5 linked regions of the Homo sapiens genome follow. The protein of the gene in region 1 interacts with the protein of each later gene in a biochemical or structural test. Each region holds a gene or a part of one and is shown in the gene's direction. Other genes may lie near its edges. The genes, in order: CDC45, MCM10, ORC5, CLSPN and POLA1.

Evidence for each region.
Region 2: the proteins of CDC45 (region 1) and MCM10 form a complex in vitro, tested with the Homo sapiens proteins (one large-scale study listed by BioGRID and IntAct).
Region 3: the proteins of CDC45 (region 1) and ORC5 form a complex in vitro, tested with the Homo sapiens proteins (one large-scale study listed by BioGRID and IntAct).
Region 4: the proteins of CDC45 (region 1) and CLSPN form a complex in vitro, tested with the Homo sapiens proteins (one study listed by BioGRID).
Region 5: the proteins of CDC45 (region 1) and POLA1 form a complex in vitro, tested with the Homo sapiens proteins (one study listed by BioGRID).

What each region holds. Positions count from the first base shown.
Region 1 is NC_000022.11:19,503,917-19,507,435, forward strand, and holds part of CDC45 (cell division control protein 45 homolog), read left to right. Parts: intron 1-1,445; coding exon 1,446-1,565; intron 1,566-3,469; coding exon 3,470-3,519. UniProt on the Homo sapiens protein: Required for initiation of chromosomal DNA replication. Core component of CDC45-MCM-GINS (CMG) helicase, the molecular machine that unwinds template DNA during replication, and around which the replisome is built.
Region 2 is NC_000010.11:13,189,041-13,192,559, forward strand, and holds part of MCM10 (protein MCM10 homolog), read left to right. Parts: coding exon 1-40; intron 41-2,258; coding exon 2,259-2,359; intron 2,360-3,214; coding exon 3,215-3,325; intron 3,326-3,410; coding exon 3,411-3,519. UniProt on the Homo sapiens protein: Acts as a replication initiation factor that brings together the MCM2-7 helicase and the DNA polymerase alpha/primase complex in order to initiate DNA replication. Additionally, plays a role in preventing DNA damage during replication.
Region 3 is NC_000007.14:104,197,996-104,201,514, reverse strand, and holds part of ORC5 (origin recognition complex subunit 5), read left to right. Parts: intron 1-556; coding exon 557-757; intron 758-3,519. UniProt on the Homo sapiens protein: Component of the origin recognition complex (ORC) that binds origins of replication. DNA-binding is ATP-dependent. The specific DNA sequences that define origins of replication have not been identified yet.
Region 4 is NC_000001.11:35,759,967-35,763,485, reverse strand, and holds part of CLSPN (claspin), read left to right. Parts: intron 1-164; coding exon 165-326; intron 327-1,004; coding exon 1,005-1,082; intron 1,083-1,415; coding exon 1,416-1,488; intron 1,489-2,281; coding exon 2,282-2,390; intron 2,391-2,569; coding exon 2,570-3,144; intron 3,145-3,519.
Region 5 is NC_000023.11:24,994,193-24,997,496, forward strand, and holds the end of POLA1 (DNA polymerase alpha catalytic subunit), read left to right. Parts: intron 1-1,612; coding exon 1,613-1,758; 3' UTR 1,759-2,794; downstream 2,795-3,304. UniProt on the Homo sapiens protein: Catalytic subunit of the DNA polymerase alpha complex (also known as the alpha DNA polymerase-primase complex) which plays an essential role in the initiation of DNA synthesis.

The sequences.
Region 1 (3,519 bases):
TGCTGCGAGCAGTCTATGCACCAAAGGTTGACATTGCCCTGTCAACAGGCAGGGCACGGGTGGCAGCCCATATAGTTCAATGGAACCCAGTGGCCGCTTGGGCTTTGGGCTTGTCTCTGGGTCCTTCCCACTGAACAGCGAAGGCGCACCAAGCCGCAGGCAAGCAAATGCCCACAAGGGGCTCGAGGCTAGACTCACCATAATGTGTTATAGGACCAGCAGGTTTGTATGCCTGCTGTGCAGTAACAGACTTGTTACACTGAGACAGCAGAGTTTGCAGCAGAGGAAGAGTTTCATGATTGCAGGGCACCGAGTGAGAAGATGGGAGGAGATCCTCAAATCCATCTCCTTGAGGAGTTCTGGGCTGGGCTTTTTTGGTTTTGTTTGTTTGTTTGTTTTTGAGATGGAGTTTTGCTCTTGTTGCCCAGGCTGCAGTGCAATGGCGCTGTCTCGGCTCATCGCAACCTCCGCCTCCCAGATTCAAGTGATTCTCCTGCCTCACCCTCCCAAGTAGCTGGGATTACCAGTATGCAGCAACACGCCCGGCTAATTTTGTATTTGTAATAGAGACGGGGTTTCTTCATGTTGGTCAGGCTGGTCTCAAATTCCTGCCCTCAGGTGATCTGCCCACCTTGGCCTCCCAAAGTGCTGGGATTACAGGCATGAGCCACTGTGCCCGGCCTGGGCTGGGGCTTTTAAGGGGACTGGAGGGTGAGGGGCTGGAAAATTGGGAGAGTTGATTGGTGGGGCAAGGGGGATGTAATCATCAGGGTGTACAAACTGCACTCTTGGTTTAGTCAGCTCCTCGTGGGGTCCTTCGGAGCAGCTCAGTCAGTAGCTCCATCAGTATACAGGACCCAAAGGAATATCTCAAAGGGAAAACAGCATTTCCTAAGGTTCAAGTTGTGATCTACGGAGCAGTTAGGGGAACTACAATCTTGTGACAGGGTCTACATGCTTCTGAGGCAATGAGACACCAAGCAGCTACGAGGAAGCAGTCAGAGAGCACGCCGACCTAGTGACTGATGCTGATGTGCTGCGAGCTGGGTTCATTTTCATTTCTCCCCTCCCCCTGCCCTCATTAATTTTGTAAAGTTTATAGGGAACATTTCACCCACTCTGCTGTGGATCCCTGTCACTTACGGAGTCTGTCATCTTGGCTGTATGGGCTGTGGCCTCTGCGGTGCCCATTCTCAGGAGGTGTGAGACCCATGAGGACCGGAGGTGGACAAGGCTAGAGACCACACCCCCCCGCTCCATCCAATCATGTTTTCCTGGGTGCTTGGTTTCTATGCAGGCTGCATGTCCTTAGTCCCTGCATGGGAACAGCTCCTGTGGTGAGCAGGCCCCTGAGGAAGGCCTTGAGCGGGAATGGAGCCTAGGCTTAGGCTGCCTGGTAAGAGCTGGAGGGAACCAGCCGAGGCTTGTGCTACTTTTTTTTCCAGAATGAAATACGTGACTGATGTTGGTGTCCTGCAGCGCCACGTTTCCCGCCACAACCACCGGAACGAGGATGAGGAGAACACACTCTCCGTGGACTGCACACGGATCTCCTTTGAGTATGAGTATCCTTGTGGCCCAGCCTGAGGGGCACAGGCAGCACCCCTGCTCAGCAGGCCTTGTTTGCTTTGTCACCCTCTGTGGGTTCTGGCCACATCCCCAGGAGGGAAAGCAGGTGGGGCAGGAAGTTTTGGGGGAAGGGGCTGTGGTGTGCTACCCCAGCTCATCTGTGTGGCTTTGGCTTCTAAATGCCAGAGCTGAGTTTGGAAGTATCACCCTTCTCCAGCACATCCCTGTAAAGTGCTTATTGTGGGCCTGGCTCTGGACATGGTAGCAGTGCGGGCAGTGGTTCACGCAGTCAGGAAAGAAGGCAGCTGCCATGTAATCACACAGCGTGACGTGTCTTTTGAGAAGCACATGGGACATTGGTGGAGTGCTCAGAAAAGACCATGGGGAGACCACATCTCACACAGTCTCAGCCACACTCAGTGTGGCAGCTGCTGTACTGAGCACAGGAGGGGCTGGGGGACTGGCTGGGGTCAGGTGTCAGGAGGCCAGAGCAAGCCTTGTGAGCCAAGGGCAGCGGGAGGCTGTGGAGTGACCAGAGTTTGAGTCAGGGTTTTTAAAAGGTCCCTTGGCTGCCCAGTAGAGGTAGGTTGGGGGCAAGGAGATGGTCACTGCTTTCCAAGGCCACACAATAGTGGCTTGGCCCAAACTGCAGCAGTGGCTGTAAGCAGTCAGATAGCATGATGTCAGGGACGGAGCTGCCCTGTCTCTGCACTGTGATGGCTGGGAAGGAGGAAGAGTGAGGGTGGACACGTCAGTAGTCAGGTGGCCATCGGAGCCTGGGGAGCGGGGTGGAGCTGGCTGAACTCCTGGGGAGGGGAGCCGCTGTGCACTGGAGCTGGTCCCATCATGTGCGTGGCAGGGTGGGCTCACTTACCCAGGGACCATGGGAGTGTGTGACTGAGACAGGAGGGAGGGAGTCAGGGAGCTGAGGATGCTGGGGCTTGAGGAAGCTGCTGGAGTGTGGGCAGGGAGCATGGTGGTCTGAAGGCCTGGGAGTTCCCAGGAGTTGGGAGGGGCAGTGGTGGGAACTGAGCATGCCGAGGAAGCAGGCAGGACCAGGCTCTCGTCCTGTAGAGGGGAAATCCACCGTGGGGGACAGTCCACACTCACAACTGCGCTCACGGTGCCAGGGGCAGTGATGGATATGTTTAAGAAAAGGGCTGAGGAGGTCGGGCGCTGTGGCTCACGCCTGTAATCCCAGCACTCTGGGAGGCCAAGGCAAGTGGATCATGAGGTCAGGAGATCGAGACCATCCTGGCTAACACGGTGAAACCTCGTTTCTACGAAAAATACAAAAAATCAGCCAGGCATGGTGGCGGGTGCCTATAGTCCCAGCTATTCGGGAGGCTGAGGCAGGAGAATGGCGTGAATCCAGAAGGTGGAGCTTGCAGCGAGCCGAGATCGTGCCACTGCACTCCAGCCTGGGCGACAGAGCGAGACTCCGTCTCAAAAAAAAAAAACGAAAAAAGGGCTGAGGATGGGGGCGCTTCGTGGATGGGGTCCCAGTGGAGGGCTCTCCGGAGGAATGGGTTGTAGGGAGGGCTGGGCTAGGTGGAGCAGGAGGTGCAGGACGACAAGCTGGTGACGCCCAGCCTCCTACGTCATGTGTGGCCATGACTGCTCCATGTGACCACAGCACCTGGACTTTGCAGACCCCTGTGCTCCAGATTCTCTGCCTGTCAGACGGATGGTGGTCTATGCCTGTCACTTCACAGGCTCTCTGTATGGGTCAGCTTAAGCTAAGAAGGTCAAAGGGCTCCAGGTCACTCTTGGGATACCTGGTTTTGCAGGCAGGCCTGGTGAGAAAGGGCCCCGCCATCAGAGTGGCCCACCTGCTGGAGTTACGAGAGTGCTCAGGGCGGCCAGTGGGTGCTTGCATGCTCCTTGACTGCAGGCCCAGCCTCCGCCTGGTGCTCTACCAGCACTGGTCCCTCCATGACAGCCTGTGCA
Region 2 (3,519 bases), on another chromosome or scaffold:
ACTACGGAGGGGTTTCTTCTGCCTCGTATGCAGCTTCAATGTAAGACGTTCTCGGGCTTCTTTTGGGCAGAGGATTTTGCTTATCAAAGACTAAACCTACTGGTTGTACCTTCCTGTAACCGTCATAGGATACTTGTACAGGTTTTATCTTTCATAACTCACTACTTGAAACAAGTTGGTTAAAGACCGCTTTTATTCCCAGGTAGAGAGAAAAACTTTCAGGAGAGAGAGAGATTGACTTATGTTGTGTTGGACTTTAAGAGAGCCCACTCTTCCTCTTCAACTTTTTTTTTTTTTTTTGAGACGGAGTCTTACTCTATCACCCAGGCTGGAGTGCAGTGGTGCAGTCTCAGCTCACTGCAACCTCCAAGTCCTGGGTTTAGGTGATTCTTCTGCCTCAGCCTCCTGAGTAGCTGGGACTACAGGCGCGTGCCACCACGCCCAGCTAATTTTTGCATTTTTGGTACAGACAGGGTTTCACCATGATGGCCAGGCTGGTCTCGAAATCCTGACCTCAGGTGATCTGCCTGCCTCGGCCTCCCAAAGTGCTGGGATTACAGGCATGAGCCACTGCTCCCAGCCCCTCTTTGACTTCTAATGTGAATAGTGCACCTTCATCAGGGCCATTAAAAATGTGTTAATTACAGTGTTAACACCCTTTTAATTATTTCTCGTATGACTATATGAGTGAGGCTACAGACCTCATGGAACCCAAATTTCATTCAGTGAGTGAATATACTATGAAGCTTCACATGGGGAGTGGGGCGATGCTGGGCAGGCATCCATGGCCCCTTGCCTGGGGGTTCAGAGTCACTACAGCCCCTGACGCTGTAATCCAGGGGTGTCCAATCTTTTGGCTTCCCTGGGCCCCTTTGGAAGAATTGTCTTGGACTACACATAAAATATATTAATGATAGCCTATAAGCTTAAAAAAAGAAAGAAAAGAAAAGAAAAATCTCTTAATGTTTTAAGAAAGTTTATGAATTTGTGTTGGGCCGCATTCAAAGCCATCCTGGGCTGCATGTGGCCCGCAGGCTATGGTTTGGATAAGCTTGTAATCAGTGGCCTCGTCACTACATTATATAAAGCATATCTGAGGACTTGGCACGAGGCAGCTACAGTTGGTCCAAGAATAAAACATAGATTTTTGTTCCCAATCCAGCAGGAATGGGGCAAGAGGACTCATTTCCTGTTTCTTTTTTAACAGTAAGCATGTTTTTGAGATTTAAAATTATTTCTGAATTTTTCCAATCTGCTAAAACAATACATGTATATTAGTCTTTTAAAAGAACATACAATCCAACCAATGGAGAAAATAAAAACCAACTATAATCCTATCACCTGAAAAACTGTTAGTTCTAGGCCAGGCACAGTGGCTTACACCTGTAATCCCAGCACTTCGGGAGGCCAAGGCAGGAGGATTGCTTAAGCCCAGGAATTTGAGACCCGCCTGAGCGACATGGCAAAACCCCATCTCTACAAAATGCAAAAAAAATTAGCTGGGCATGGTGGCACATGCCTGTAGTCCCAGCTGTTTGGGAGGCTGAGATGGGAGAATTGCTTGAGCCTGGGGAAGTTGAGGCTGCAGTGAGTCAGGATTGCTCCACTGTACTCCAGGCTGGACAACAGAGTGAGATCTTGTCTCAAAAAAAAAACCCCAAACTGTTAGTTCCTTGGTATATATACTCCTAGGTGTTGTGTTTCTTCATATGTGTACATTTTTAGTAATATAAAATGAGATCATATTGTTCCTATTCTTTGTATCCACTTTTTTTCCAGTGTAAAATAATTAATGTTTTTCTCATGTATTTTCAGTGGCTACATAGTGTTCTTTTGCATACTCTGCCTTAATTCATTTAAACAATTCCCTGTGGGTGAACGTTAATGGTGTTTCCAATGTATGACATTATAAACAAAGCTGCCATTAATATCCTAAATTTTTGCATAATCCTTAATTATTTTAAGATAAATATCCAGACTGCTGGATCAAAGCATTGGCTTTTTTTTTATTTCTTTTGCCAAATTTCCTTCCAGAATGGCCTCAAGTGGATTTGTAGGCTGCCTCTAGCTTTTCCTCTGTGACACAGTGCATAAACCAGTTATGCTATTGGGCCGTAACATTAAGAAAGCCTACTTAGATGGTGTTTTGAGAAACTTTGACGGTGTGTGTAATAAATGATGATATCTATGCCTTCTTTACCTCATCAGAGCATTGAGGCTTTAGTGATTCTCCTTTTGGGGGTGACTTGTCATTTCAGTGCAGCAGCTGTGGCTCCTAAGAAGAAGATTCAAACCACTCTGAGTAATCTGGTTGTTAAGGGCACAAACTTGATCATCCAGGAAACACGGCAAAAACTCGGTAACTTTGTTTTTCCATAAGAAATTTCTTTCTCCAGTTTAATTATGCAGCCTTAGGGATAAAAGACTACACATTGGGTACAGGGTACACTGCTCCGGTGATGGGTACACCAAAATCTCAGAAATCACCACTAAGAACTTATTCATGCACAAAAATAAATAAATAAGCAAGCAAGCAAGCAAGCAAGCAAGCAGTCTTTAGGGTTGAAAATGGATACAGCTCATACTCTTAAGTAATAAGAATCCAGTCATCACCTGTACTTAGTGAGTGGCGCGGTCTAACCTAAAGGAATCAAGCCAGGTTTGCAGGACCTTAAGGAAAAAAACAGCATATTGATTTTAGCTATGTCTTACCTTAGTATGCTTTTTAAAATTTCTTGGTGTATCTGGGTCCAACTCTTTACATCCAGCATTAGAATCAGCAGTATTATCTTCCTGGCCAAGCTTATTGGTTATCTTTTGTTAAAATGGGTCTTGGTCATAAAAACAAAAAAATTTTTAATAAAATAAAAACAAATAAAAACAAGTCTTGATCAGAGAATGCAGCCCCCATCCTGGGCTTGTGGTCAGGGACCCTTATCCTTAGCGGATATTCCAGAAACAGGGTATGGAATGACCCCCAGATTTAAGGGCTTAATATTCTAATCATTACTAGAAATAAAATATAGTCGAGATACCCTGCCATCCTATGAGTCTGATGATAGAGGTTAAGGATTCTTTTCTTTCCTCTTGGGATTCCGTCTTCTTCGTTTACGTATGACTAAAATTACAAGTGCAGAGTTTAGAAAGTGGTATGTCATATGACCTCAAACCATCTGAATGTGAATCCTCTAAAGCTGGTGTTGACCTGGCACAGGAATACCCCAGAAGAGCCTGTCTTGCTCTGAGGAGTTCAAGGAACTGATGGACCTGCCGACGTGTGGAGCCAGGAACTTAAAACAACATTTAGCCAAAGCCACAGCTTCAGGTACCATCAGCTGCATGGCCACACGTGTGTCCCTGTGTTCCCTCAGCCTCCCAGGGCACCCCCTCAGTCTGGGCTTCTGTTTCAGGGATTATGGGGAGCCCAAAACCAGCCATCAAGTCCATCTCGGCCTCAGCACTCTTGAAGCAACAGAAGCAGCGGATGTTGGAGATGAGGAGAAGGAAATCAGAAGAAAT
Region 3 (3,519 bases), on another chromosome or scaffold:
TTATAGGAAAATACAAATTTGCTTTGAATTTCCATAAGAAAGAAATGGCAAGCTGAAAGAAATAATTGAAGTGAGTTTAATGAAGGGACAGTTTTATAATGGAAATTTTATGGGAATCACTAAGGGATGATGGTACACCAGGGCCTTTACCACCTCCAGGCCTGAAGGGACCATAGAAAGGAGCTGTTATTGGAACCAAACAAGAGGTGTAGCCTTAGAAGAGGGGCTGTCCAACTTGATCTTTGGTAGAAGAGTATCCACTGCCAAGCTAGGGCCACTGAGGGGTCATGGTGGGAGTCAAGGAAATCAATATCCAAACTTCTCTCCCACCATTCTCCCTTAGTCTCCTGCTGGTTCTTTCCATTGGCTTCTCCATCCAGAGACAGAAAATAAGAGAGTCCAGGTGATGTAATTCTGTAGCTGTCAGGCTCTTGGGGCATGGGGTGGGTTTGGTGGGATATAGATTTAGAAAGGCAAATGGAGACTATCCAGCACAGCCATTATTGTGTTTGTGTGTTTTCTTCTTTACTTACAGTGTTTTGGTTTTCGTTTTCAGCTCCCACATGTGTTTGTGAATTGTGTTGAATGCTTTACATTGAGGCTGCTTTTGGAACAAATTTTAAACAAATTGAATCATCTTAGTTCTTCAGAGGATGGATGTTCTACTGAAATAACCTGTGAAACATTTAATGACTTTGTTCGCTTGTTTAAACAAGTAACCACAGCTGAAAATCTTAAAGATCAGACTGTATATATTGTAAGTAATTTCATTTGATTAGATCATCTCTTATCTTGAAAACTGATAATTTATTAGATCAATTTTCATATATTTGTTTTGAGTCTCATTATGTACAGTGCTCTGTGCCAGGTGCTTTTAGTATACAGAAATGTATTAAATATATTCCTTATCCAAGGGAAGCTTCATTTAATAGAAAAGGTATGACACATACATACGACTACATGCAGAATGTGATAAGTGATTGTCACCAGATGCAAAATATTGACTGTGTGTGTCCAATACAGCTTCATGAGGTATTAGCATTTGAGACAGACCTAAATGAATCAGAGTATTCTAGGAAGAAATTGAAGTAGAGGAATTTCAGATAGAATTATATAAGTAAAGGCATGCAGCTGAAAATGGAGGCCAGAGAGTACCAAATAGTCTAGTTTTAGTGGGTTATAAAGTATGACGGGAGAAAAAGAAGACTGGAAGATAGGTTGGGCAGATTGTGGAAGGTCTAGAAAACTATACTAAAGCACTTCATTTAATTTCTTAGGGAGTGGATAGGAGATAGTAAAGACTTTAGAGCAACAAATATGCCTGGTTACTCTGAAGACATGTTAAAATGATCATCTTTGGAATTGGATAAGAACTACCCAAGACTGGATAGTTTATAAAGGAAAGAGATTTAATTGACTTACAGTTCAGCGTGGCTGGGGAGGCCTCAGGAAACTTATAATCAGCAGAAGGCAAAGGGGAAGCAAGGCACCTGCTTCACAAAGTAGAAGGAAGGAGAAGCTCCTTATAAAATCGTCAGATCAGATGTGAGCTCACTATCACAAGAACAGCATGGGGGAACCACCCCCAAGATTCATTTACCTCCACCTGGTCTCTCCCTTGACACATGGAGATTATGGAGATTACAAGTTAAGATGAGATTTGGATGGGGACACAAAGCCTGACCACACCATTCCACACTTGGCCTCTCCCAAATCTCATGTCGGTTTCACATTTCAAAGTCAACTGTGGCTTCCCAATAGTCCCCCAAAGTCTTAACTCATTCCAGCTTAATTAGCCCAAAAGTCCAAGTCCAAAGTCTCATCTGAGATAAGGCAAGTCCCTTCCACCTATGAGCCTATAAAATCAAAAGTAAGTTAGTTACTTTCTAGATACAATGGAGATACAGGCAATGGGTAAATACAGCCTTTTCAAATGGGAGAAATTGGCCCAAACAAAGGGGCTGTAGGCCCCAAGAAAGTCTGCAATCCAATAAGGCAGTCATTAAACTTTAAAGTTCCAAAATGATCTCCTTTGACTCCATGCCTCACATCCAGCCCACTGATGCAAGAGTGGGCTCCCACAGCCTCATGCAGCTCGACCTCTGTGGCTCCATGCCTCACATCCAGCCCACTGATGCAAGAGTGGGCTCCCATGGCCTTGTGCAGCTCCACCTCTGTGGCTTTGCGGGGTACAGTTGCCCTCTCTGCTGTTTTCACAGGCTGGCGTTGAGTATCTGTGGCTTTTCCATGCACACAGTGCAAGCTGTTGAATCTGCCATTCTGGGGTCTGGAGGATGGTGGCCCTCTTCTCATAGCTCCACTAGGCAGTGCCCAGTGGGGACTCTGTAGGGGGGGTCCAACCCCACATTCCCCTTCTGTACTGCCCTAGTAGAGGTTCTCCATGAGGGCCCTGCACCTACAGCCAACTTCTGCCTGGACATCCAGGCATTTCTGTACATCCTCTGAAATCTAGGCAGAGGTTCCCAAACGTTAATTCTTGATTGCTGTGCACCTGCAGGCCCCACATGTAAGCCGCCAAGGCTTGGGGCTTGCACTCTCTGAAGCAACAGCCTGAGCTATACGCTGGCCCCTTTTAGCCATGAGTGGGGATGCAGGACACCAAGTTCCGAGACTGCACAAAGCAGCAAGGCCCTGGCCCACAAAACCATTTTTCCCTCTTAGGCCTCTGGGCCTGTAATGGGATGGGCTGCCACGTGAAGACCTTGGAGACATTTTCCCCGTTGTCTTGGCTGTTAACATTTGGCTCCTTGTTACTTATGCACATTTCTGCAGCTGGCTTGAATTTCTCCCCAGAAAATGGGTTTTTTCTTTTCTACCTCATGGTCTGGCCACAGATTTTCCAAAGTTTTATGCTCTGCTTCCCTTTTAAATGTAAGTTCCAGTTTTAGATAATCTCTTTGTGAATGCATATGACTGAATGCTTTCAGAATCAGCCAGGTCACCTGTTGAATGCTTTGCTGCTTAGAAATTTCTTCCACCAGATACCCTAAATCATCTTTCTCAAGTTCAAAGTTCCACAGATCTCTAGGGCAGGGGCAAAATGCCACCCTTCTCTTTGCTAGAGCATAGCAAGAGTCACTTTTATTCCCTGTCCCCAATTAGTTCCTCATGTCCATCTATGACCACCTCAGTCTGTACTTCATTGTCCATATCACTATCAACATTTTGGTCAAAGCCATCTAACAAGTCTCTAGGAAGTTGCAAACTTTCCCATTTCTTCCTGTCTTCTGAGCCCTCCATCCTGTTCCAACCTCTGCCTATTACTCAGTTGCTATAACAGACTACCAAGGACTGGGTAATTTATAAAGAAAAGACATTTATTTCTCACAGTTGTGGAGGTTAGGAAGTCAAAGGTTGAGGTCCCTGCATCTGGCAAGGGCTTTCTTGCTGCCTCCTCTCATGATGAAAGTAGAAGTACAAGAGAGGATGAGAGTGAGAGCAAGAGGTGGCAGAAGTCCCTTTTATAATAAAGCCATTCTCTCAATAACCCACTCCCTT
Region 4 (3,519 bases), on another chromosome or scaffold:
GGATACATGTGAGTTAGAAACCAGTAAGAATGTTCTAGATTTTATATGCTTGTCTGTTGATGAAACATGGGCTTTTTCTGGCCTGATCCAAATTGCCATATGATGTTGTGAAATACTGGATTTTTAAATGATTGGATTATGCTTTTTGTTTATGTATTACTTAGGAAGATGATGTAGAACAGCCATTTAATGACAGTGGCTGTCTTCTTGTGGATAAAGACCTTTTTGAAACTGGGTTGGAGGATGAAAATAACTCTCCATTGGAAGATGAAGAGTCATTAGAATCAATAAGAGCAGCTGTAAAAAACAAAGTAAAAAAGCACAAGGCAAGTAAAGCATGATTGCAATAAGAGTTAATCAACTGCTTCTGACCTTTGCTATATTTTTAATTTACTGTTGGAACCTTAATTTTTTTTTTAACTGAAGAAAAACTTGTGTCAGTTGACTTAAGTGTTTCAGCTGTTAATTTTGGAGACTTGCAGTACAAGTGATAGACATGCTAACTTCTTTGGAAACTAGTGTTTTGTTATTACCCTTTTAGGAATGCTGAAAAAAAAAACCACTAAGATATTTGATGGTGTAGTAAGATGCAGGTAAATAATAGGGAAGAGATGTAAATTTTGCAATCCTATAGCCTTTGAGAAATGAACCCTATAGGGTTTCAGGAAGGGTATCAAAGAGAGGCATCAGTCAAAACATTGTTGTCCCGAGTGTTTGGAAGCATAATTTTTCTTCCTAAGATTTTTTTTTAGCTTCCTGCGAGTTATTATCCCTCTTTAGGGAAAGATGTAAGCAGAGGTAAAAGAAATAAGGGTCCAGACTCCATCTGAGGTATCTGTTTTCTAAGCATAATAGGATGCTGTGTGTTTAATAATTTCTAGTTGATGATTATTGATTTATTAATGTAGCATGATGTGGTGTTGGACTACAAAAGTAGTCTTCAGCTAAAGCATCCTCTTATTTGAATTTCGTTTTTGTCCTAATCAACCTGCCATTTCTTTTAGAAAAAAGAACCATCTTTGGAGAGTGGGGTCCATTCATTTGAGGAAGGAAGTGAGTTATCAAAAGGAACCACGAGGAAGGTGAGGTAGAGCCCTGTATATTAGTCACACTGATCTCTTTACACAGGAGATTATAGATTTCTTAGGGATAAATATTTTATTTTGTCTATCATATTTTTCTGTTACCCATCATATTGCTTTGTACATAGTAGGAACAAAATATGGATTGGATTGAACAAATTCTCTGAGACTTGGGAATAAATGAATTCCTTGAGTTTATACTGCATTTGGGCTTACTCATGCTTACTATTTCCTTTCCTCTTTTCTTGGAGAGAGCAAACTCTTGAGTGATGAATATCTATCTTTCTGGATATTCATATAATTAATGTAGTCTCACTTCTTGTTTTCTTTAAGGAAAGAAAGGCAGCCAGATTAAGTAAAGAAGCATTAAAACAACTGCATAGTGAGACTCAGCGCCTTATTCGAGGTAATGCAACCCAGTAAACTTTGAGGCAAAATCACAACATTTCTTTGTAAGCTCAACTTGGATGTTGGGGACTTTTATTTTTTTAACACTTCTAATGTGAACTCAGGTTATAATATTAAGTTTAGAATTGATCTTGGTGAAAGGCCATTGTTCTAAAGCCCTTGGAACATTAGTATAAACTGAAGAAATTTTCAGAACTGTAGTGCAGGTAAGGAGGAAATTTTTTAATGGTTGTCTATGGACTGATTGTGTCAGGATTCTTTGGAGAGGTAGTAATCCCTCCCTATTTGCAGTTTTGGTTACCTGTGTCAGCCATGGTCCATGGAACTTAAAAATATCATCCCTTTGTCCAGAGTATCACGCTGTATACATTACCTGCCTGTTAGTCCGTTAGTAGCCCTCTCAGTTATCAGATCAAAAAAACACTGCATGGTTTAGTACCATCTGCAGTTTCAGGCATCCACTGCAGGTCTTGGAATGTGTCTGTCTGGATAAGCGGGGACTACTGTATATAAATGTTTAGGTCCCACAGAGATTCTGATTCAGTAGATTCGAAATGGGATCCAAGAATCTGTATTTCTAAAAAACTTCCTGGATCATTTTGATTTCACATCTAGGTTTAAAAGCCACTGGTCTTCAGGGAGCTTTTTTGTACTTAGCTCCTCTGCCTTTGTTAAAGGGGAGTTTTCTATTTCTAGTGATGGCTTTGGTTATTATGTTTAGTTAACTGAATATGAAGTGACATTTCAGAATATACAGTATATATATTTGCTTGTTTTATTCCATTTTATAGAGTCTGCACTGAACCTTCCATATCATATGCCTGAGAATAAAACCATTCATGATTTCTTCAAACGTAAACCCCGGCCCACTTGCCACGGAAATGCCATGGCACTATTGAAGTAAGAACCCTCTTTCCTTATTATAATTTTCATGAACATTTAGTTTTGTAGCAAACATCTGGCATAAAAAGTTCAGATTTCTCACTCCCTTAAAACTGATTTAACTGATATATACTAAGGGATGAGAATGTTTCACATTTAGGATAATTTTCAACTCCAGCTCAATTTCTCTTCTCTAGGTCATCTAAATATCAGTCAAGCCATCACAAAGAAATCATAGACACTGCAAATACTACTGAAATGAACAGTGATCACCATAGTAAAGGTTCTGAGCAGACAACAGGTGCAGAAAATGAAGTGGAAACTAATGCACTCCCTGTAGTTTCAAAGGAAACCCAGATCATTACTGGATCAGATGAGTCTTGCAGGAAGGATTTGGTAAAAAATGAAGAGCTAGAAATTCAGGAGAAACAGAAGCAGAGTGACATTAGACCTTCACCTGGGGACAGCTCAGTGTTGCAACAGGAATCCAACTTCCTCGGGAACAATCACAGTGAGGAATGTCAGGTTGGAGGGCTTGTAGCATTTGAACCTCATGCCCTGGAGGGTGAAGGCCCCCAAAATCCAGAAGAAACAGATGAGAAAGTGGAAGAGCCTGAGCAGCAAAATAAATCATCAGCAGTTGGGCCACCTGAAAAAGTGAGACGGTTTACTCTGGATAGACTTAAGCAACTGGGAGTAGATGTTTCCATTAAACCACGGCTAGGTGCTGATGAAGATTCCTTTGTGATACTTGAACCTGAAACCAACAGAGGTAATCCTTTACATTGTGGGGAGCCTCCCTGGAGTGATTATCCTGGTAGCTTTTGATTATTGACTACTGTCGAGGACAGAGAACACAGGAGGAACCAATAACCACTTTGATCTTATCCTGCAGTTGTTCCAGATATGGGCAGAGTCTTTTTTAGAGAAATTTGGCAGGGTATCAGAATGATCTAAGCCATGTTTAAAATGGAAGTCTGTTGGCTGGGTGCGGTGGCTTACGCCTGTAATCCCAGCACTTTGGGAGGCCAAGGCGGGCAGATCACGAGGTCAGGAGTTTGAGACTAGCCTGGCCAATACAGTGAAACCCCGTCTGTACTAAAAATACAAAAATTAGCCGGGCATGGTGGCACGCATCTGTAGTCCT
Region 5 (3,304 bases), on another chromosome or scaffold:
AATTGTCTTTCTGTTGCAGCCCCCCTCTCTTTTTCCACCCCTTTTGGGCATTTTAATTCTCTATAAAACCTGTGGTTGTTCTTTAAAGGACAACTTATGTAATTCAGAAAAGGTTGTGGAGAGCAAATGCGAATGTATAGCCAAGAAACAAAAATCTGGAGTCTGAGTTTTCGTTTTCCGGGTGTTTTGTAGACTTCCCGTGTTGCTGTTGTTGGAGGTTTGCTTTCTGTGAGTGGCGCGCTCTCCCCTCCGTGTTTCCTTCCTGACCGGTTCCTATCGGGAGGTGCTGGGCAGCCTTGCTGCTCCCAGGCCCTTTGGCACAGGCCAGCATCTTATGGGGGCGGAGGCCTCACCTCAGGATCAGCTGATGTCTGAGGCCTGCAAATTTCTATGTGGGAGTAGTGATGTAGTGGCAGGGGGAGTGGGCAGAAGTGAGCCTCTCCTCAGGTGCGGGCTGGGGGTTCTGGCTACCTGGGTTTGCGTGTCTACAACTCTGATTACCTGCTGTGTAACCTTGGGTAAGTGACTTAACCTCCCAGTTTCCTCAGCCATCAAATGGGGATTGGGGGTGGGGGGGGCGCGGGGAAAGCAGCCTCTCCAGACACCTTACCAGGTTCCTGAACACAGCGTCATCCCCCACGTGATCACTCTCTTCACCCAAAAGATCAGACCTGAGCATCACAGCCCCACTGCTCCTTTAAAAGAACAACATGTAGGGCCGGGCGCAGTGGCTCACGCCTGGAATCCCAGCACTTTGGGAGGCCAAGGCAGGAGAATCACTTGAACCCGGGAGGCGGAGGTTGCGGTGAGCCGAGATCGCGCCACTGCACTCCAGACTGGGCAACAAGAGCAAACCTCTGTCTCAAAAAAAAAAAAAGAAAGAAAAAAAACAACATGTAGAAGTAGCAGGCTCTGGGAAGGGAAAGGAGAGGGGTCTTTTCTCTGGCTGGTAGCATCCTGCTCAGAAGGGAAAGGCCAGGGATGAATGGGTTAAAGGAGCAGGAGTGCCGCATACCCTGAGTTCACACAGTGTGGACAAAGAAGAGCAAAGAAATCTTGGCCATGGACAGACAGGTGCCCTCGGGGCCGCTCACCTCTCGCCTCTTTCAGCAAAGGAAATTTTGTTTAGCAGAGGGACTTGGGCTGGAGGGACTAGAAAATGCTTACTAGGCCCAGCTGATCTGGGGAGTTGGGGCTGGAAGGCACCAGAGGCCATAGCTCCCTTTGAGACTAGGTGTTTCCTGCCACGTCCAGACTTCGCAAGCAGTTGCATGCATGTGCTCGCAGCGCCGGTGAAAGTGGCGTCTGCGAGTAGAGCTCACCTTGTCTGCTGCACATGAGGGTGCACCTGCAGTTCACATCAGTAGAGGGTGGCCCTGTCCCCCAGTGCACTGAGTCAGCTAGGTGCTGAGAGGCGGACAGACAGGGGAAAGGAAGAAAAGCTTTCACAGAGGAATGGTCGGCGGGGGCTGCATCTGACTGGCCCCAGGGGTAGACCAGAGATAAGATGGTGGAGATACAAATGGAATCAGCATCCCCTTCTCTGGTGGAATACTGAATGTTCTTTAAAGAAACTACCTGAGACTTCTAATCTCTCTCTCTCTCTTTTTAGATAAATTGAAGAAGCAATTTTTTACCCCCAAAGTTCTGCAGGACTACAGAAAACTCAAGAACACAGCAGAGCAATTCTTGTCCCGAAGTGGCTACTCCGAAGTGAATCTGAGCAAACTCTTCGCTGGTTGTGCCGTGAAATCCTAAGGGAATCCCAGGAGTAACCAAGGAGGGGGTAGTTGAAAAATCCCAGCTTCCTCTGTGCCTCCACTCTGGCCCTAAATGCTCCTCCAGCATCTGTTTCTCCCTTGGGACTGTGTCTCATGTTTGTGTGAATGTAGACCAGGAAAGGGGGCTGCAAAAATGTTGAGTCTAATGTTCGTAAGCATCATAGAAATTCCTGTCTTCATATTAAGATGTACTGCTTTAAAACACAACTCCAGAGCCCCTCCCCAAGCTCCCCTCCCCAAGCTCCTGAAGACCCGGTTTCTGAGGGAGGGAAATTGCTACTTGGATTGAGAGTAGCTGGAATGTAAGTGACCCCAGGCTTTGCCTCAGGGCCTTTAGCCTATGTCCCCCCCACATAAAGAGAGCTTCTCAGAGCCTGACTGAAGAGCTGACGTTTTGCTTTTTCATATGCCAATTAAACCCGGTCTAAATCCAAATGCTTCTCCAGCCATCCAGGAGTGGCTGTCCTTTTCAGTCTTGTCTTTTATATAGGTAGCTGAGGGGGAAGATTTAGAAGCCTTGCACTCACTAAATAGATTAAACAGAGCAGGCTTGTTTGTTGAATTGCTCCAAAGTCCAACAGACACACACTGAGCAGGTGTTTTACACTCACATTCCCTTTTTGCCCCTTAAATAGAAAGTGCAGGTAAAGGTTTATACAACAAGAAAGCACATTGAAAATAATTTGATACTCTAACAATCCATTAACATGTGTAGGGGTTACGGTGAGGATCACTGTGTTGTATTCAGAAAAACGGGGAGAGGGATGCTTAATTGGCCCTGGCGCTTGCTATTTTTTTCTCATTTCTTCACAATAGGACCGTCTTTGGCAGCAGCAAAATGTATTTCAGTATGGCAGTCTTTCCTCTCTTACATTATTGGTAAGATTATACTAACAAAATGTTTCCCCTTGTACAATTATGCTGTGTTTTTAAAAAACATTGACCTGTGTGTTTTTATAAAAGAAAAAGTATGTTGTGCCTTCTTCTTAAGAATAAAGTTTTCTAAAGGGAAAGCAGTTGTGGTGAATCCTTACCAGGTGCAAAGAGTTGACTAGAGAGGCAGCAAGGAGTAAAATGTGAGTAGAGCCAGTTGCTGTGGCACACACCTGTAGTCCTGGCTACTCGGGAGGTGGAGGCAGGAGGATGGCTTGAGCCCAGGAGTTCAAAGCAGACTGGGCAACATAGTGAGGCCCCCACCTCTAAATACATACACACGTACATACATATACATATACATATACATATACATATACATATACATACACACACACATATATATATATACACACACATATATATACACATATATATATATATGACTAGAGGCCATCCCCTTTTCAAACCTCAGCCCAGTTTCTTCATAGCCACCTCTATCAGAACCCAGCTCAGGAGTGCACAGCATGATATTTGGTCGAATGTTCTGAGAAGCATTCAGAATTTCTGTGACTTTAGGTCATTTAAGAGATGAAGTATGGTTTCTTACGTGCTTTGCTGACTTAGAGAGCCAAGCCAAGAGCCCAGCA